Linked DNA regions of Homo sapiens. The protein of the gene in region 3 interacts with the protein of the main gene of each other region in a biochemical or structural test. Each region holds a gene or a part of one and is shown on either strand. Other genes may lie near its edges.

Region 1 (7,026 bases), on a different chromosome or scaffold from region 3:
CATTTTTTTATTTTGATGCACAAACTTATCAGATTTGGCCCATGGGAGCCCCTTCATGCCAGCTTTGAGTCCTTAGTAATATGTCTCATCATTCGTTACATCCTACCGTACTTTCTGGTACAAAACATTTCAGGCTCATCTTGTACTTTCCCTGACCCAGCTCCCAGAATGAGCAGATTCTCTGAGGAGCCCTGGTTCTTTTCAGTAGAGGATGGTGTTCAGAAACCAAGATCTGGGTACCAGGAGTGCCCATGTCCCCAACTGGGTGTCATGCACTCCCACTGAGCAGACAGAGCTGAGAAAGATCTGTCTGTATGCACACATGTGCTCGTGTCTACACACGTCACAGCTCCTTTCAGGTCTAGGTCCAGATCTATCTAACCGTGAGCACACATCGATAATTTCAGTTCCAACCCAATGCCTTTTTATAGCTTTTCTTTCTCCATGTTTCTAATTCCCTTTTGGAATGGTAAGAAGTCAGGCTGTGGGCTGGGCGCAGTGGCTTACGCCTGTAATTCCAGCACTTTGGGAGGCTGTGGCAGGCGGATCACGAGGTCAGGAGATCGAAACCATCCTGGCTAACACGGTGAAACCCCATCTCTACTAAAAATACAAAAAATTAGCCGGGCATGGTGGCGGGCGCCTGTAGTCCCAGCTACTCGGGAGGCTGAGGCAGGAGAATGGCGTGAACCCAGGAGGTGGAGCTTTCAGTGAGCCGAGATTGCGCCACTGCACTCCAGCCTGGGCGACAGCGCGAGACTCCATCTCAAAAAAAAAAAAAAAAAAAAAAAAAGGCTGTGATTATTCTCAATACATGTACTCATTGGTGCAGCTCCCTGTGTGCCAGGCAGTTCCTCTCAATCCTAACAGGAAGAAGAAAGCAGCCGCTAATCTGTTTTTAAAATTATTTCTGTACTTTAGTAAATTAAATAGGAACAATTTTGTGGCCATGATAGAAAATTTGAGATAGTTCCAGCCCGTCTTTCTGTCCTGCTCAGTCAGTGTTTGTGTCAGTGTGGAGACGGGGCAGTGAATTCCCGCCAGCACCCACTGCCCCTGCTACGCCAGGCTCTGCCATTCCCTGTAGACTGGGCTCCTTTTCCTCATTGCCAGTGACAGGCGACCACCACCTATAGGCCTGGCCTCACCCAGACTCAAGAGCAAGTTTCTCTGTGAAGGACTTACACTAAAATTAGTCTTAGAGATTAGCAACCATTTCTTTCCTTCCTTCCTTCCTTCCTTTTTCTTCCTTTCTTTCCTTTCCTTCCTTTCCTTTCCCTCCCTCCCTCCCTCCATCTTCCTTCCTTCCTTCTCTCTCTCGCTCCCATTCTTTCTTCCTTTCTTCTTTTTCTTTTCTTTTTTTTTTTTTTTTCCTGAGATAGAGTCTCACTCTGTCACCCAGGCTGGAATGCAGTGGTGCAATCACAGCTCACTACAGCCTCGACTTCCTGGGCTCAGGTGATTCTCCCACCTCAGCCTCCTGAGTAGCTGCAACTACAGGCATGCGCCACCACACCCAGCTGATTTTTTTATTTTTAGTAGAGACGGGGTTCCACCATGTTGCTCAGGCTGGTCTCAAACTCCTGGACTCAAGCAATCTGCCCGCCTCAGCCTCCCAAAGTGCTGGGATTGCAGGAACAGGCTACTGTGCCCGGCCAAGCAACCATTTTCTTTTCTTTTCTTTTTTAGATGGAGTGTTGCTCTGTGACCCAGGCTGGAGTGCAATGGCACAATCACGACTCACTGCAACCTCTGCCGCCTGGGTTCAAGTGATTCTCCTGCCTCAGCCTCCTGAGTAGCTGGGACTACAGGCGCCCACCACCACACCTGGCTAATTTTTTGTATTTTTAGTAGAGACGGGGTTTCACTATGTTAGCCAGGATGGTCTTGATCTCCTGACCTCATGATCCGCCTGCTTTGGCCTCCCAAAGTGCTGGGATTACAGGTGTGAGCCACCACACCTGGCCCGAGCAGCCATTTTCAATCTTTGATTGTTATCTTTAAGCACATGGCCCTGACCAGCACTTCTGGGGATAATTTTAAAGTTAAGACCTTAGGCCAAATGCAGTGGCTCACGCCTGTAATCCCAGCACTTTGGGAGGCCAAGGCAGGAGGATTGCTTGAGCCCAAGATTTCGAGATCAGACTGGGCAACATAGTGAGACCCCATCTCTACATAAAATTTAAAAATTAGCCAGGCATGGTGGTGTGTGCCTGTGGTCCCAGCTACTGAGGCTGAGGCGGGAGGATCACTTGAGCCTGGGAGGTCGAGACTGTAGTGAGCTGTGATCACACCAGTGCGTGCCAGCCTGGGTGACAGAGTGAGACCCTGCCTTTAATAATAATAAAAAACAGGCTGGGTGCAGTGGCTCACACTTGTTATCCCAGCACTTGGGAGGCCGAGGCGGGCAGATCATGAGGTCAGGAGTTTGAGACCAGCCTGGCCAACATAGTGAAACCCTGTCTCTACTAAAAATGCAAAAAATATTAGCTGAGCGTGGTGGCAGACGCCTGTAATCCCAGCTACTTGGGAGCCTGAGGCAGGAGAATCGCTTGAACCTGGGAGGCAGAGGTTGCAGTGAGCCGAGATCACGCCACTGCACTCCAGCCTGGGCGACAGTGAGAGACTCCGTCTCAAAAATAATAATAATAATAATAATAATAATAATAATAATAATAATAATAATAAACAAAGTAAGACCGTGAAGCAGTAGGACAGTAGGCATGGATTTGAAAGTAAGGAAGAAAACGTATCAGCAGAATGCTGTTGCCCCTGGGGTCTTGTGCATTCCTTGGCTGTGTTTCTCCAGGTGCCTCTGTAGTAACACGCCTCCACCACCTCCCCTGGCTCCTAGGTGATGCAGCATCCTAATGAAGGCGCACTGGTGCTTGGCCTACACAGCAACGTGAAGGATGTCTCTGTGCCTGTGGCAGAAATAAAGATCTACTCCCTGTCCAGCCAACCCATTGACCATGAAGGAATCAAATCCAAGCTTTCTGGTAAGAAGCATGCAGCATCTGGAGACCCTACGAAGAGGGAGCCCATCCTGGGAAAGGTGAACAAGACAGTGCCTGAGATGTTCCTGGGCAAGAGACCTTTAGAGACCCCTGAAAGTAAAATGTGGCTTCGGCCCTGGCCCTCCCCTCCACCCTGGCTGTGTTTCCACCCAAAGAGAACCATTGATTCCAGCCCATCGAAGTTTCTTAGGCCAGATCTTCCCATTGCAAGGTTATCTTACTCAGGTGTCTGTTGCAGATCGTTCTCCTGATATTGACAATTATTCTGAGGAAGAGGAAGAGAGTTTCTCATCAGAACAGGAAGGCAGTGATGATCCATTGCATGGGCAGGTAACTTTCTGTGGTCCCTCACATGGCGTGTCCAAGAAGCTCCTGGGGTTTCCCACCCTCATTCTGTCCCTGTACCCACTTAGGACTTGTTCTACGAAGACGAAGATCTCCGGAAAGTGAAGAAGACCCGGAGGAAACTAACCTCAACCTCTGCCATCACAAGGGTGAGCCTCAAAGGTCTGGGGAGTGGTTGGCTAAGATTTTCAGTCTGGGGGTAGGTTGGCAGCAGCATATTCAGGCCTAGTGGAGACTTCTTAAAATCAACACAGGGTCATCCCTTCAACGATTCCAATGAACGCTCTATATCCTCACCACCGCCCAATTAGACTCACTGTTGTTGGGAACCACAATTACTGATAAGAGTGTTATATCCTTCAGGTTATCGTCAGATAGAAAAAAGGAGGAGAACCCTTCTTGTAGAATTCAGAACAGATAGTGGTCCATCAGGGAACAGACCGCCTCCCACCCACTCCAGTGGCTGCTTCATGTCACATGCTGTCCTCTGCAGCGAGAAAGCCAGCTCCCTCTAGGAGTAGCACTAGTTTTAATCATGTGCTGAACTTAGGCAGAGATAATAGGCTAGTCATGGGGTGCTCCTATGACCCTGGGCTTGCTAAGCTTTAATTACATCAGATATCGTTCCTGCCTTAACGGATCCATAACCTTGGAGACCAGGTGCCTTTTGATACTTTTCCTCCATAAGACTTCCTCAAGAGTCACTGTTTTGATGACATTTGAGTCCTGAACTAAGAAGCTAAAAACCTGAATTCCTAGGTGGTCTTTGACAGATTCTGGAGTGCCTGCATGAAGTGTGGGAGGGCCAGAAGTGCTGGGAGCATTTCCGAAGGGGAATTCACAGCTCCATTTACCCAGAGGCATCCTGATTCTCCCCAGTGCAGAGCTAGCCTAGGGACCAAACCCCTGAGAGCCGAGATGCCCACCCCTTCAGGGATGAAACGGAGGCCAGATCACTCTCCCATCACAATGAGGTGTCACTGGACTTCAGGTAAATCCGTGAGACTGTGACCTGGATTTCCCATCCAGTCAGCAACTAGGGAGCGGGAGGACTGTTTCCTTGTCCTCAGGTATCCACCTCTCAATTGGTGCTCCAAATGGTCCCCATGAGGTGTGTCACCAGTACCCCAAATGCTTGACCTCCATTGCACTCTGGAAATAGGGAGTGGCTGTAGGATCTCTCTCTAGTCAGCCCCTACTGCTGAGGCTTTCTTTTTCCTGCTCTGTAACCAGAAAGCGGCCCTATTTTCTTCCCAACGGGTGCCCCCAGAGCTTCATAAGTCACCTCTTCCTACGTGGGGTCTCTTCCTTGGCATGACCCTGGCACATGACTGGAGTTCAGTGCTCCTGCTAATGTATACTCCCCCAGAGGTGTTTCTTTTTAAGCTGCAGGCACTTTCCAGTTCTATCCCAGAGACTCAGTGACCTCCCTTAGTGCCTGTCTCCTCTGTGCATGCGCATTCTTCTCTCCCACCAAGAACACAGATGTACTTGACCTTCTGTGAACATGTCTCATGCTGCTCTGTCACTGGGAGCTCGACTTTTTTTCTCTGCTGTGAATGCCCTTTCTGCCCTTTCTCTGAAGACCTATCAGCCTCGCAAGTTCATTGTTTTCATCCCCAGATGGCGAGTCTGTCATTCAGGCAGGAAGTACATACAACCACAGGCTAAGCATCGTGCCCAGAGACAAAGAGATAGGGCCCAGTCCATGCCATCAAGCGCACAGTGTCTAGTGACACCACACATTTCAACAAATAATTACAGCCCAGTAGGACAGGTGCCATAAGACAGAGCTTTGCAATGACACCAGGGGACTGTGGCCACCTGTCCCAGGAGTGCCAGGACAGCTTCCCAGATGAGATGCTGAGAGATGGGTTTTTTAAAATAAAACTTCACCAAGTGGATTTGGGGAAAATTTTTATTCAAGGCAGAAGATACCCTATATAAAGACCCAGTACAGTGCTGTGGCTCACGCCTGTAATCCCAGCACTTTGGGAGGCCGAGGCAGGCGCATCACAAGGTCAGGAGATCGAGACCGTCCTGGCCAACATGGTGAAACCCCGTCTCTACTAAAAATACAAAAATTAGCTTGGTGTGGTGGCACGTGCCTGTAATCCCAGCTACTCAGGAGGCTGAGGCAGGAGAGTCACTTGAACCAGGGAGGCAGAGGTTGCAGTGATCCGAGATCACCTCACTGCACTCCAGCCTGGCAACAGAGCAAGACTCCATCTCTAAAAAAAAAAAAAAAGGCCCAGTACAACAGCATGCAGTTTTTCCCAGGAACTCAAAGCAGTGAGTTTCCACTTGACTATGGGGTGTGAAGGGTCAAATAGAGAGATAAGGCTAGAAACAGGCAGACCCAGGCTTCGGACACGTACAGGCCTGACTGCTGAGCTCTGTTCAAGTAGTGGAGGCCAATGAAGACTTCTAGTCGGAGGGTAGCATGAGCAGGTTTGCACTCGGAAGGACCACTGTGGGCTGTGGAGGGAGAAAGACCAGAAGCAGGTGGGCAGGGTATGAGATGTCAGCTGAAGGCTGTTGCTATGATCCCAGAGAGGCAAGGAGAAAGGCCTGACTGGAAACAGTGGTGTCACAGATGGAAAAGGGAGGATCTGGGGTAGCTAGAATGGGCCTGCGGGGAGAACGAGAAGGAGAGACTCCAGGCGTAGATGTTGGTTCAGGTGTGTTGGCGACATCAGTAAGAGGATCGGGGTGCAAGGAGAAGACGGGACGCTGCGTTCCACCGTGGAGGTGGTAAGGCTGAGGTGCCCGCGCTGTGCATGCGCAGGTAGGAGTCAGCAGTGGGCACTGTGAATCCGAAGGGCAAGAGAAAGGGATGAGCTGGAGACCCACATTTGGGAGGTGTTGGGGCACAGGGGGGTGGAGGACCTGGGGATAGACATTCCTTCTCCCCGCAGCTGCACCCAAGGCCCAGGAGCTACACTGGAATTTGGCCTGTCTTCCTGACAGGCTTTGAGTGCCAAGGGCAGAGACCAAGTCCTCCAGTCTTCGTGTCTTCCCACAGCTCGTCATGAAAGTGGGCTCTGGTGGGTGTTTATTGACTTGAATTGACCCCAAGTGGACGTTGCTGAGAACTGTCATGCGATTTGTCCCTACAGCAACCTAACATCAAACAGAAGTTTGTGGCCCTCCTGAAGCGGTTTAAAGTTTCAGATGAGGTATGGCCTCTTACTCCCAAGGTTAATGGTGAGTAGAATTCCCCGGGTTTCACCCAGCATCCCTGGAGTACACTCTGTATTGCCACTGAGAGTCAGGATTCTAGGATTAATATTCCTGCTCCCCGTGGCATACCTGGTAGAGCCCTAAGGGAGAGGGTGGCTAAGAAGGACTTAAGCAAGCAGAGGAGAGAGAGGCTATGCACACAACGCAGGGCAGCACAGCTACGCCCGACCCTTGGTGATGCGCAAGCCTCTGGCATGCGATACAGGGACAGACCCAGCGGATGCTGCTGCGGTTGTCACTTAATTTCCCCTCTTATCCCACGGGAACATCAGTGAGCAGCAGCTTGTGAGGTGGAAATGTCCTTGTTGGTCAGCCCTGGAATAACCAGGAATGGGGCTGCTGAGAGAGAAGCAGTCTTTTCCCTGGGCTCCGGGAGGGGCCCGTTTCCACAGGCCTCTCAGTGGGCTAACAGAGGGATAAA
Region 2 (7,026 bases), on a different chromosome or scaffold from region 3:
CCATAATGGTTGAACTAGTTTACAGTCCTACCAAGAGTTTAAAAGTGTTCCTTTTTCTCCACATCCTCTCCAGCACCTGTTGTTTCCTGACTTTTTAATGATCACCATTCTAACTGGTGTGAGATGGTATCTCATTGTGGTTTTGATTTGCATTTCTCTGATGACCAGTGATGATGAACGTTTTTTCACGTGTCTGTTGCCTGCATAAATGTCTTCCTTTGAGAAGTGTCTGTTCATATCCATTGCCCACTTTTTGATGGGGTTGTTTGTTTTTTTCTTGTAAATTTGTTTGAGTTCTTTGTAGATTCTGGATATTAGCCCTTTGTCAGATGGGTAGATTGCAAAAATTTTCTCCCATTCTGTAGGTTGCCTGTTTACTCTGATGGTAGTTTCTTTTGCTGTGCAGAAGCTCTTTAGTTTAATTAGATCCCATTTGTCTACTTTGGCTTTTGTTGCCATTGCTTTTGGTGTTTTAGTCATGAAGTCCTTGCCCATGGCTATGTCCTGAATGGTATTGCCTAGGTTTTCTTCTAGGGTTTTTATGGTTTTAGGTCTAACATTTAAGTCTTCAATCCATCTTGAATTAATTTTTGTATAAGGTGTAAGGAAGGGATCCAGTTTCAGCTTTCTACATATGCCAGTTTTCCCAGCACCATTTATTAAATAGGGAATCCGTTCTCCATTTCTTGTTTTTGTCCGGTTTGTCAAAGATCAGATGGTTGTAGATGTGTGGTATTATTTCTGAGGCCTCTGTTCTGCTCCATTGGTCTATATCTCTGTTTTGGTACCAGTACCATGCTGTTTTGGTTACTGAAGCCTTGTAGTGTAGTTTGAAGTCAGGTAATGTGATGCCTCCAGCTTTGTTCTTTTTGCTTAGGATTGTCTTGGCAATGTGGGCTCTTTTTTGGTTCCATATGAACTTTAAAGTAGTTTTTTCCAATTCTGTGAAGAAAGTCATTGGTAGCTTGATGGGGATGGCATTGAATCTATAAATTACCTTGGCCTGCCCAGCTTTTAAAGCCAGCTTCTCTGGAAAGTCTTTCCAGGATTCTGTAGAGGTTTTCTTCTTATTATTTATTTATTTACTTGTTTTTTTCTGAGGATTTCCATAGCACTTTCAAAATTATCCTGTTATAGAGCACCTGACTGGCTTGAAACTACGCATTTCCATATGTGTGTCTTCTTTAGGGTGTAAGCTTCTGGGCAGTGATTAACGCATTTATTTTTCATTTTCTCCTCCCAAAACAGGTAGTGAACATTCTACATAAATGCTCTTTGAATAAACTCACTTTTGGATGTTGTATGGGGATGGGGGAGTGGAGGAGGTAGTTCGTAGGTATTTGGGGCTCCCAGGAGGAGGACAATATCATATACTTGGAAACGTAAGGCTTGCTTTTGAGGCTGACTCTCACTTTTTCTGTGAGTCCTGTGGACAGTATTTAATTGCCTCTGTCTTTGTTTGTTTGCCTGAAAAGGAAAAACTAGTTTAATGCCAATTTATTTGGTTGGCTGGAAATAAAAACTTCTGATTCCTGTGTTTTTATAACACAATCTAATTGTGGCATTGGCACCTAAAGTATTATTTTGTATTAAAATTAATTGCTTTTTAGAAATATTGGGTAAAGTCCATTTTGTTTAAAGTTCCAACCCTTTCAAAAGCTATAAAGTCCAAATGAGATTGGAACACCAGGAAGACAGGGGGAAGAGTCATTCTGTTACCTGGTTTTCTCCCCTGCCTGACTTCTGACCTGAGCAGAGGCCAAGGGGGTGCACTTGTGTGTGAGTGTGTGCACATGTATTGTGGCTGCAGGGTAGATATTGATGGGAAATACCACATACTGACCAGCACCTGAGTGTTGAAAAGGAATGGAAGTGGGGACATGAGATGAAGGAAGAGGAAAGATGGAAGAAATCAGAAGTAGCAGTTTGCAACTAAGAGCAGTTAAAATGTAAAGATGAGATTGATGCAATAGTTCAGTTCATTCAGAACTATTGAAACTATTGATTCAATAGTTCAGACAGGATGATTAAACACACCTACACACACACACACACACACACACACACCCCAACCTAAGTTCATGCTTGCTTCACCCTGAGTCCAAAGCTCTTATGCTAAGGTTGGATCAAATCCAAATTTATTTGTGTCTCTGTCTTACCCAGTTTACCCAATTCTCTCCATCTTTAAGTTTCTTTGGTGCCACCTTCTGGTTGGCCCAGTTCTATGAAGTCTGAATATTCCTTCCTGCCTCCCAGTCTCTGAAATGTCCTCGAGTGAAAGATGAGGTTGTGGAGGACCCCGGGACTTGCCTGCACATACTACTCTGCCTTCCAACATCTGCAGACCCTAGTATAAGCTCTGGAGAGGTCTTATGATGTGAGGATAGTGAGAAACAGGAATATTTTGTTCCATAATAAACAACCTCTTAAGTATAGAGTACTGTTGTGCAAATTATGTCATGATTGTGTTTTCTTGGTTCACATTTATTTTACTTAGTTTTCTGAACCCTAACCATAACCCTAACCCTACTTGTTTTTTTCTGAACTGCACTAACATTTATTTTAAACTTTAAAGAATTTGCACTGCTTTAGACTGTTGTTCTATATTTAGAGTGTTGCCTTTACACTTTAAAAAAATATATAAGCTCACTTTTTTGTTTAAGTAAGAGACACCCTTCTGTTGAAAAATATCTTAGGAGGAAGCGAAATATCTTAGGAGGAAGCAAAACATCCAACAGTGAAGATACTTTGGTTAATACAGTTGTTCCCCACTTCCTTGTCTCAGCCACTCAATTCCCCTTTCCTCCTGTGCTCTAAGAGACCCAGAAGACCTGTCCAAGACCCCCACTAAGGGCATACAGTTTCAGAGCTGCTGCAACAGGCACTTTGTAGGCCGCTGGGAAACTGGATGAGGCTCCATCTGTTTATAGAAATGAACACATGCACGATAATTTATATCTCTAGATAGAGTTTCCAGGACTTTTCATTTTGCTCATTTGCTAATTTTCCAAACTGGAGCATATTTTTCTTGTTTGACTACATTTTTCAGTTAAAATTATACATGTTTATGAAAAAAAGGATAATATAATAGAAAAAATATCTGTAGGATCATGAGATTATAGATAATGATTTGTCCTTTTATTTTCCCAAATGTTCTCAATTGTAAGAACAAAAAGGCTGAGGGAAATTGAGATGAGTTGGTGAACTGCAATATTTTATGAAATAGCCCACGTTTTTATAGGGTTTAATAGATATAAACAACAATGTAGGACTTATAATAATGCACTAAAATTATAATAATAGTAAACTGTAATAGCTTTTTAGCACTTTAAGCAAGGTGCCCCCCTAGATTAGGCTCCTACCTTCCACAGAACTGGTTGATAGGGATGCTATCTTTCTTGATGATTACATTTCAAAAGGATGGCTTCCAGGTCTTTGAGAGACTGTCCTGGGATGTAAAACTAGCAAGAAGCTTTTTTAAAAGATTTACATCTCAAAGGGGCTGATAAAGAATTTACAATGACAAGTTCTCTAAATAAAATGCTTTAAGAAAAAGGAAGAAAGGGCCTAGAGGCAGGAGGAAGCCTGTTTAGTTTGTTTATTTAGTCAAGTTTAGGTTGTCTAAAGTTAATTCAAGCTGAGGGGAATGTTAAGACCCTCTTAGCCAGGAGGATCCAAAAATCAATGCATCTAATTAAAAGTGCTCCCTCGATGACAAGATTAGGGCTTCATATTTTATATCCATGCCTATGGACTTTCTTTGCAACTCCGTAACCCAGTTTCAGCAACTCTTGGGGAAAATGGGGCATCTTTTTGGAGTCACTTTAAAAAGTAATTTTTTTTTTTTTTGTCTTTCCAGTAGCCTCATATTTCAGGCCAGCCTATCTCAAACAAACCCTCCAAATTTGGTGAAATGTATCTAGCTGTTTTCACAGGAAGTGATGACAGAAATACAGTTTTTATTGATAAAGAATTACATATATAAGTTTTAGAACATTCTTTATAGATTATATTGGAGACATTAAACTGAAAGATAATTAGCAGCAATAGGGGGATTTTGTGTAATGATTAAGAATTCAGGCTCTGGAATCAAACTGTGGGTGCCAGGCGTTTATGACTACCTGAGGGTTCTGGAATGAGTTACTAAACCTCACTCAGTCTTCTCATCTCTAAAGTGGGGCAATAACTATACTGACCTCAATGTGTTATTGGGTGATAATGGAAAGTGCTGAAAACAGTGCCTGGCACCAAGATCTTTTTTTTTTTTTCCTGAGATGGAGTCTCACTCTGTTGCCCAGGCTGGAGTGCAGTGGCGTGATCTCGGCTCTCTGCAGCCTCCACCTCCTGGGGCTCAAGTGATTCTCCTGCCTCAGCCTTCCAAGTAGCTGGGATTACAGGTGCCCGCCACCATGCCTGGATAATTTTTGAATTTTCAATAGAGATGGGGTTTCACCTTGTTGGCCAGGCTGGTCTCGAACTGCTGACCTCAAGTGATCTGCCTGCCTTGGCTTTCCAAAGTGCTGGGATTACAGGTGTGAGGCACCACACCCGTCCGCACAAAGACCTTTTGGCTGCTGCTATACCAAGGGAGGAAGTAAGCAGGTGTTGCAGGGTGTCTGTGCCCCTGTTGCTAAGAGGGATACAAGTCATAGGCCCTGAGATTGGCTATTTTATGAATAAACCAGTGTTTTTGTTTCCTATTGGTGTGATAACACTTTACCACAAATTTAGTGGCTGAAAAATGACACACATTTATTATCTTATGGTTCTGGAAGTCCTAAGTCCAAAATGGTACAGCATAGCAATGTTATTTTCTGGAGTCTCTAGAAGAAAATCTGTTCCTTGCCTTTTCTGGCTTCTCGAGGAGGTTGCATTCCTTCATCAGTGGCCCCTATCCCTCTGACCTCTGCTTCCGTCCTCATGTCTCTGTCTCTGACTCTGCCCCTCCTGCCTCTCTCTTTTAAGGACGCTCGTGATTCCATTAAGCCCACTGGGATAACTCAGGATAATCTCAGATCTCAAAATACTTAACTGAATACCATTTGCAAAGTCCTTATTGCCAGGGCAGATCATGTAGTCACAGGTTTTGGGAATTAGGAGTGGAAGTCTTTGGAGGGTGGTTCTTCCACCTACCACCTCAGCGTCCACTGACTGGGGGATGAATGACTGCGTGGCTACCGGAGTCATTGGCTTATGTGCTTTTCCCTGCTGTGCCTTTGATGCAGACCTTCTCTGATGGATGACCTCTGTGAAGCAAATGGCACTTTTGCCATCAGCTTATTTAAAATATTGGGGGAAGAGGACAACTCAAGAAACGTATTCTTCTCTCCCATGAGCATCTCCTCTGCCCTGGCCATGGTCTTCATGGGGGCAAAGGGAAGCACTGCAGCCCAGATGTCCCAGGTATGTGTGCTTGTCACAAAGGAAGGAGAACAGTGTGTTTCCCTTGTGCTTCCATACAGCTGTCTTTCTGTACTTTTGCTCTAGCTGAGGCCTGTGGAGCTGGAGGTAGAAGGAGGAGCAGCTCGGCAGTGGAGAAGAGCAGAAAGGGGTAGAAAGGTGAAATGTGTTGGACAGATCATCTCCTCTGATGTTTATGGGAGAAGTCAAGCCATAGAGTTATTTTCTCTAGATCAGATCATCAATACAGTCTGGCAAATTCACATCTTTGATAAGTAGGATAAAGTATAATTCTGTCCCACAAGAAAGCAAAATATTCCAATTTTGTTACATTTTAAACTTTTGCTAACATTATATTTTTAATAGACATGTGGGTGCGTAGATTAACTTTTTGTTAAGTGGGTTATTTTAGTGCATGATTATGCATCCTAGAAGAGGAATGTAACACAAGTGTGGACTTATATCTTCTGGAGTGATTTGAGGAATATATAATCTGTTTGATTCAAAATGGTGATGTATGACCTTATCTACAAACGAGGTGTGGGATAATGCTTTAGGAACAGTTCTCTGACTATTGGTGAAGATGTCCCAGATAATTGCCAAATGGATATCATTTTGCCACCAATATCAGGAGTGTATAGACAGTCTCCTAAAATGCACCCAGGGACCCCAGTTGACATCCTTCTGTGGTTGTTTCTTTCAACTGATTGGAGGAGTGAGGCTTTGGACTGGGGGTGATCGAGAGATATAGGAATAACCTTAATTCTCACTCTGACTTGACATTTAATTTATAATATGGTCTGGAGAACTTCTGTAAAATTGCAGATGAAACATTTTTAGTTTTATTGCTGCTTTTGTTTGTATTACCCGAGTTGTAATTCATCCCAGTTACTTACTTTTTTCTGTTCTGCCTTCCCCCTGAATTATCGCACACTGCCTTGCTGGCATGAATAAATTTGCTAGACTAGTGGTTCTCACCTGGTGGGTGGGAGGTAGGGGTCGGTGGGTGAATTTTTCCTTCCTGGGGACCCTTGCGAAGACCTGGAGTTTTAGATCCCATAACTGAGAGGTGCTACTGACATCTAGTGGATGGAAGCCAGAAGTGCTGCAAAAATCCTACAATGCTTATATGAGACAAGGAAGTGTCCTGGCCCCAAATGTCAATGCTGCATTGCCCACGTTGAGAAACCCTGTGCTAGACAATTAGGCCAAACCTTTTTAAAGTAGGATCCTGTGTGGTTTTTTTAGTACAGAGGTTTGTTTGGAGAAAGCTCTTTGGGAGAGTATAATGGCAGCGTTAAAAGTCAGTGTTGGTTTCTGTTCCCAGGCACTTTGTTTATACAAAGACGGAGATATTCACCGAGGTTTCCAGTCACTTCTCAGTGAAGTTAACAGAACTGGCACTCAGTACTTGCTTAGAACTGCCAACAGACTCTTTGGAGAAAAGACGTGTGATTTCCTTCCAGTAAGTAGTATTCACATATTGATGACAAAGAAATTGAAAGTAAGTTAGACTACAGAAGAGCAGATAATAAAGTATAACTGTACTGACTTAAAACGTGCTTGGAATTACACTTCTGAAATTACAATTTTAGATTTTATGATGACTTCTGAATTACGTCCTTT
Region 3 (6,930 bases):
TGCGCAGGAGCCTACCACCTGCTCACTGGTTTGTAAGTCATTCAGGGGCTGGGCGCTTATAGAGTCACTCAAGGCGGTGACTCACACCTGTAATCCCAGCACTCTGGGAGGCCGAGGCAGGTGGTTCACTTGAAGTCAGGAGTTTGAGACCAGCCTGGCCAACGTAGCAAATGAAAACCCGTCTCTACTAAAAATACAAAAAATTAGCTGGGCGTGGTAGCACATGCCTCTAATCCCAGCTACTCGGGGAGGCTGAGGCAGAGGCTGCAGTGAGCTGAGACCGCACCACTGCACTCCAGCCTGGGTGACAAGAGTGACACTGTCTCAAAAAAAAAAAAAGTCACTGGACTCCCCCAAGCCAGTCCCCTACATTTCACATCAGGAGGGTCACCTATGGTGCCTCCTGCGTCGGGCTGTGGTGGGTTCCCACACGAACCCCCATATCTCTACTCCCCATGGTAGTCAGAGGAGCCTTTAAAAAGGGTAAATTTGCCGGGCACGGTGGCTCACGCCTGTAATCCCAGCACCTCTGGAGGGGGAGGCAGGAGGATTGCTTGAGGCCAGTCTGGGCAACAGAGTGAGAGCCCATCTTTTAAATTAAATTTAAAAATATAAAAATAAAATGGCTGGGCGCGGTGGCTCACGCCTGTAATCCCAGCACTTTGGGAGGCTGAGGCAGGTGGACTGACTGAGGTCAGGAGTTCGAGACCAGTCTGGCCAACATGGTGAAACCCTGTCTCTACTAAAAATACAAAAAAATTAGCCGGGTGTGGTGGTGTGTGCCTGTAATCCCAGCTACTCGGGAGGCTGAGGCAGGGGAATTGCTTGAGCCAGGGAGGTGGAGGTTGCAGTGAGCCGAGATTGCGCCACTGCACTCCAGCCTGGACGACAGAGCAAGACTCCATCTCTAAATAAATAAATAAATAATTTTTATTAAAGGGTAAATCAGTCAAATTTCCAAAAGAATTTTGAGAATCCAGAGCCCATTGCTCTGATAATTAAATTCAACATCTGGACCCAGCTTGGCAAGTGCTCTGTGATCCAGCCCGTTACCTACCTCTCATCTCATCTCTCGGCCATGCTCCAAGAAGTGTCTGCTCCCCAAGTGCATAAGCTCATGCCCCCAGGCCCATGTCCTTGCCTCTCCCTCTGCCTGGGACACTCTTCCTCCAGATCTTTACACTTTTGCCTCTTTTTTCAGCCTCAGCTCAAACATCACCTCCTCCCAGAGGTCTTCCCTGACCACCCCAGGGATAGCAGCCCTCCCGCTTCCCCAGGCACTCCCACATTACCTTCTTTATCATTTTCTTCCAGAGCTCTTAGGATGATCTGAACTTCTCTCATAAACTGGCTTATTCACCTGTGAACTGCCTGCTTCCCTCGCTATAACTGAAGCACTGGAAGAGGTCCTGCACCCAGCAGGCACTCAATGAGTATCTGAGGAATGAGTGAATGAAATGCCCAGTGCACAATCAACCTCCACAAAAGCAGTTTTTCTTTTCACATATAACTCATCGCTATCACAGCCCCTCTCCTTGCTCACCCGCCTCGCTGAGGGGCTCCTGAGAACCTCCGTAGAGGTCTCCATCAGCCAAAAAGCATCTGCACCGTCAGAGAGGGCCCCTCACTGCCGCTCGCAGTGCTCCCTGCTGCCACGTGCAGCCCCTTGAGCATGAGCCTGTTGACACAGGTTGGCACACGGTGTCTGGCTTCTGTAAATGCTCTCTGCTCCCAGGTGTGCCGTGCCCCATTGAAGGACAGCACTCACACTCCTCCAGGTATTAACTGACTTTTTCCCCAGCAATGTTTGTTTTAGGGATTAAAGTTTGTGGAGGAGCCTATAATTTCCAGACTCATCTGTTCCTTTCCTGGCAGCCAGCACATTTGTCATTCTATTTTTCCCAAGTCCCTGATAATACCGTTCCAGACATGTTGATTTGATGGCATCAGTCAACGGAAAGACTCTCTGGGGCCTGCCGTAGGCCAGAGGACAGGCTCTCCGGGCCACACTCAGGGGCGACTGAGCCAACTCTTCACGCCATTCCTTTCCTTCCCTGCCTAGGACGACCTTACAGCCCATGATCGCTTTTCTTCTTCTTCTTCTGTTTGTTTTTTCTTCCTGTTTTCTTTTTAAGTACTACAGTGACCCCTTATTTATTCAGCAAAGAAATGGACTACTCCACAGTAGTGAATTTTCAAAATAATGCCCTTCAAGCACTAAAACTTTAAACAACACATCTTCAAAACAGCTTTGCTGAGGTATAACTGACACACTATAAACGGCATGGATTTAAAGTGTACAACTTGATATGTTTTGATATATGGACACACCCATGAAACCATCACCACAATCAAGATAATGAACATGTCCATCATTCCCAAAAGTTTCCTCCCGCCCCTCCCTGCCCCCTTCCCCAAGCAAGCACTGATCTGTTTTCCAAATACGTCTTTAATGCTACAAGGGCTCACACACCTCCCCACCTTAGAAAATGGAGTATGATCAACATGATTGATCCTTTCCTTGATTCAGCATTATCACCAACACGATGGAAAGTGATCTCAGATGTCATGAGGATGCATGATTGTTTGCCCTGATCACTAAACGGCCCATTGTTGTGCTGGCATACTGGGCAGTTTCAAGTTTGGGAGTTTTCTCCCTCACTGCTAGCTGTCTCAGAGCTTAGTTCCCAGCAGACAACTCTTGCTGCCTCGAACCCTGGCACACTAACCACCATCCTGTGACGTTCCCACTCCTCATTCTGCGACAGTGGTTCTTTGCTGGGAGAGATTTTTGTCTCCCAAGGGACATTTGGCAATACCTGGAGATCTTTTTGGTTGTCATCATGGGAGCGGGAATGCTACTAGCAGCTAATGTTTAGTGACTAGGGATGCGACTGAACATCCTGCAATGTAGAGTGCAGTGTCCCCTACAGAGAATTATCCGACCCAAGATGTTGATAATGCCAAGGTTGAGAAACCCTGTTCAGGATGACAAACTGATTGAAAACTCAACAAGGGGACCGGGCGTGGTGGCTCACGCCTAATAATCCCAGCACTTAGGGAGGCCGAGGTGGGTGTATCACTTAAGGTCAGGAGTGCGAGACCAGCCTGGCCAACATGGCAAAACCCCATCTCTACTAAAAATACAAAAAAAAAAAAAAAAAATACGAGTGGCGTAAGCCTGTAATCCCAGCTACTTGGGAGGCTGAAGCATGAGAATCGCCTGAACCCAGAAGGCAGAGGTTGCAGTGAGCTGTGATCAGGCCATTGCATTCCAGCCTGGGCAACAGAGCGAGACTCTTGTCTAGAAAAAAAAAAAACAAACCCATAAAACAAACAAACAAAAAAAACTATGAGGATTGAGTGATTCACATTTCTGAATCGAGAGAGAGAAGGATGGGCAGCAGGCTTGTTGAAGCTGGAAGGCCAGGGAGGTCGCAGACTGAGGAAGACCCTGGTGTGTCCCAGGTACCTCCATGCAACCCTACTAGAGAGGTGGTCTCTGGCTTCCTATGGACAAGCTCTAAGGGACCCAGCTATGGGGCACCAGAGCCCAGCGTTCAGCAGCTGCTCAATGAATGTCTGCCAGGCGAGACTGCACCCAAAGCATTTATTAGGTACATAATTGTGGCAGCACTGGCTGGCCATGGAAGGCAAGGCAGAACACAAGGAGCTGGAGCTGGCGGAAGGAAGTCATTAAGTCAGCCAGTGGCTGGGATGCAGCAAAGCCAGGCAGAAGGTAAGTGCAGACCCACCCCAATAAATGAGGAAAATGAGAAGGGCTGGCTGGCCATGTTAGGATCCAGTTCCAGTGCGACCAGATATGTCACCACCACATCACTTTTAGCTCCTCCCCCCACCCACAGACACCCTGTTTGCCTGTCATATAAAGAAGGTTTTCCCAAAGTGGTTTAGCCAGAACTGGAAGGGCCCCGCCCTGTGAAGGGATAGGAGCCTGACTGTTGCAGCTGCAGTGAGTGGCGGGGAAGCAGCAGCGGCCAGGATGAATCCCAGGTGCTCTGGAGCTGGATGGTGAAGTATGGACATGCTTTATTCGATTTTGCATTGACTTAAAGGTTTAATTATTTTAGGAGTTCTTGTAGACATTCCTGAAAAATGCAGGTAGGCAAAAAGAAGAAAACAAAGATCGCAAATGTGACCCTTTCATTCGGAGAGAACACCAATGGAATTTTGTTGTGCACCCTTCTATGCACGTCTGAATGTTGTGTAGACATTCTGCTTACAACTAGGTGTGGGTGCTGCTGCCGAAGGCTTTATTTGCTGTGCCTGAGGTGGACCAGAGATTTCAGAGAAGACTCCCAGAGCACCCCAAGGAGACAACAGGAGTGCTTGGAGTCAGGATGACTGGGTGGATTTAGGACTATGTGATTCTCAGGAGCCTCTCTGGATTAGCCCCAAATCAAGGATAAAGAGAGGCCTAGCTGGACTCTTCCTCCCAGAGCCCTGCTGGGAAAATGGAGCCCCTTTACAGCCCCCACTTACCCATCAGGCCCTGCTCCTCTCACTCATCTCCAGACTTCTGTCACATGCCCAAGTCCTGCTAACTGCTGTGTAAAACTGGTAAGGTGGGATCCAGAGGACCTTGGGCCCCTAGGGCCCCAGGTCAGGAGACCTGGGCTCCAGGGCCAGTTGAGAGTGATAAAGAGAACAATACCTGCCCACAGGACTTGTTGCAATGAGATAAAGGCAGAAGTCACCAGTTGTGGTCAAATGGGATTTTTTTCCAGAGAAGTCTCACAGAGAGTGGCTTTCAAATTCTTTTTAGCAGCAGAATTGTTGTAAAATACAATCTCATGTGAAACCCTAAAATGTGAGACACTCTGGGTGAAGCAGAGAGAGGTGCTCAACTGCCCAATCCTGTCCTCATTCCTCCCTCTCAGGGAGGCACCTCTGAGAACCCACTTTAAAGAATTTTGCCTTATGCAGATTGAAGAGGCAAGCTGGCTGGAAGAAACTGGGAAGCTCCACTTCCCACCGCCTCTGCCTGGGTGGCAGTCATCTGAGCCTAGGCTAGCCCCTCCCCCTCCAAAGACCCACTGCGGGCTCCCCTGGGGCCAGTCTCCAGGATGGGTGGGGCACCTGAAGCAGCAAGTATTGCTATTTTTCTGGGCTGACCTTTCTTCTAGGCCTGAGGACAAGTGGGTAGGTGGGGCCAGCCCTGTCCCTGTTTCCCCTCAATGGAGTTCTCTTGCTCACAGCCTAAGGAAGAAGCGTGAGTCACTTCCTGCCTCAGTCTGACTGCTGGAGTATTGTTCTCCCAACTGTGGCTGGCGCTACCCAGTGTGGCCCCTACAAGTCTTAGTTCCTTGGCGGAGGGGAAGTCCCCACTTTGGGACAAGGCCAACTGGACTTATCTTCCCGCTCAACTTTGAGGACCCAGCATTGTTCCTCCAGTTTCCAGTTCTTGCAGTGTTTGTAAAGGTGCCCGAATCGTACCTGATCCCATTCACTAAATATTATCTCCATTTTATAGAGGGGTAAATTGAGGAAGTCCCTGAGAAATTAACTTGTCTAAGGTGTCCCAGCAAAAAATAGTGCCCCAGGGATTTGAACCGGTTTGCTGATTGATTTTTCACCAGTTGCCTTAAGAATTATCATGATTTAACCTCTCTGGGCCTCAGTTTCCTCCTCTATAAAATGCAGACAGTGATACATCAAAGGTACTTAAAGGAAAATGTACTGTACCCACCTCATGGGGCATGTGGTGAGGATAAAACGGGTTGACACAGGAAAAGAGCTCTCAATGGTGCCTGGCTCATAGAAAACACTCAGTGGATTTTTTTTTTCCCATTACCCGGGAACCTGTGTTAAGGAGGCCACAGGCTGATCCTGTGCAGCCAGGTTATCTCACAGGGAGCGAGAAGAGATGGGCACAGGCTACTCTGCGACCTTGGAATAACCCAGCCTGGGAAGCTCCTGGCCACATTTTCCTTCTTTTCTTTCTCAGCTCAAGCAGCGTCGGCCTCAGCCAAGTAGCACAAACGTTTTCTAGGGCCCAGGGAGGGAGAGGCTCCGGCTGGTATATTGCAAGTAGCTTGGATTCAGGCTCTGCCAAACACCCCAGTCTCTTGCAGGATCTGAGGTCTGCTGGTTGTGGGACTTTGCGCAAATTATTTAAACGTTGTGCGCCTCAGTTTCCTTATCTGTAAAATGGGATTAATAATCTCAGCCTGAAAGGATTATGTGGATTAAATCATGTACATAAGAAGGAGATAATGTAAAGTGACTGGCCTGGTGCCTGGCAAGCGGTTGGTGTCTAAAAAGAAAAAAAAGCTAAAAATATTAAAAGGAGGTGGGCTACTTCTGCTCATATATCCACCTGTCTATACAAATGCAGACGAAGTCGTGACTCCTCTAACAGTAGGCCAAGAGGAGGCTGGTCCTGCCGCCGTGCAGTCCTCCCTCGACCTGGGAGTGGAGGACCCCAGGTCCGCCGTCCCTGGGCACTTAACCCGGTCAGGCTCAAATTCGTCGCCCAGGAGTGGGGAAGCGGGGGACGGAGAGGGCCAGTCCCCCAAGAGTCCGGCTGAGGCAGGGCTCGGAGTGCCTCCCCCAAGCCTTTCCCTTTGGTTCCGAGTTCGGGTCTCCGCGGCCGTCTTCCCGGGGAGCTCGCGGGGCGAAGAGCCGAGCCCGGGGGCGGGGGCACGGCAGCGGGGCCTGAGGGACGCGCCGGGCGGCCGCGAGGACTTTGGGATCGCCTGCCCCACTTCCTACCTGCCCCTACCAGGAGCCGGAGGCAGCGGGCGCCCCAGAAGGCCCCGCAGGGCCGCCGCGCGGGGCCGGACGCGCTGGGGCCCACGGCGCTGGGAACGCGGGCCCGCAGTCGGGCCCGGGCGGCATGGGCGGCCGAGGGGCGCCCGAGCCGCCGCGGCGGTCGCCTGGAAAAGTTTCCCCGCCAGGGCTCCCCAG

Evidence for each region. The genes of interacting proteins can lie anywhere in the genome.
Region 1: the proteins of FURIN (region 3) and PACS1 form a complex in vitro, tested with the Homo sapiens proteins (one study listed by BioGRID).
Region 2: the proteins of FURIN (region 3) and SERPINB8 form a complex in vitro, tested with the Homo sapiens proteins (one study listed by BioGRID).

The regions. Positions count from the first base shown.
Region 1 is NC_000011.10:66,213,265-66,220,290, forward strand, and holds part of PACS1 (phosphofurin acidic cluster sorting protein 1), read left to right. Parts: intron 1-2,854; coding exon 2,855-2,999; intron 3,000-3,255; coding exon 3,256-3,347; intron 3,348-3,430; coding exon 3,431-3,511; intron 3,512-6,481; coding exon 6,482-6,541; intron 6,542-7,026. UniProt on the Homo sapiens protein: Coat protein that is involved in the localization of trans-Golgi network (TGN) membrane proteins that contain acidic cluster sorting motifs.
Region 2 is NC_000018.10:63,973,074-63,980,099, forward strand, and holds part of SERPINB8 (serpin B8), read left to right. Parts: intron 1-5,225; 5' UTR 5,226-5,235; coding exon 5,236-5,403; intron 5,404-6,727; coding exon 6,728-6,865; intron 6,866-7,026. UniProt on the Homo sapiens protein: Has an important role in epithelial desmosome-mediated cell-cell adhesion.
Region 3 is NC_000015.10:90,864,675-90,871,604, forward strand, and holds the start of FURIN (furin isoform 1 preproprotein), read left to right. Parts: upstream 1-3,913; 5' UTR 3,914-4,037; intron 4,038-6,377; exon of another isoform or gene 6,378-6,476; intron 6,477-6,865; exon of another isoform or gene 6,866-6,930. UniProt on the Homo sapiens protein: Ubiquitous endoprotease within constitutive secretory pathways capable of cleavage at the RX(K/R)R consensus motif. Mediates processing of TGFB1, an essential step in TGF-beta-1 activation.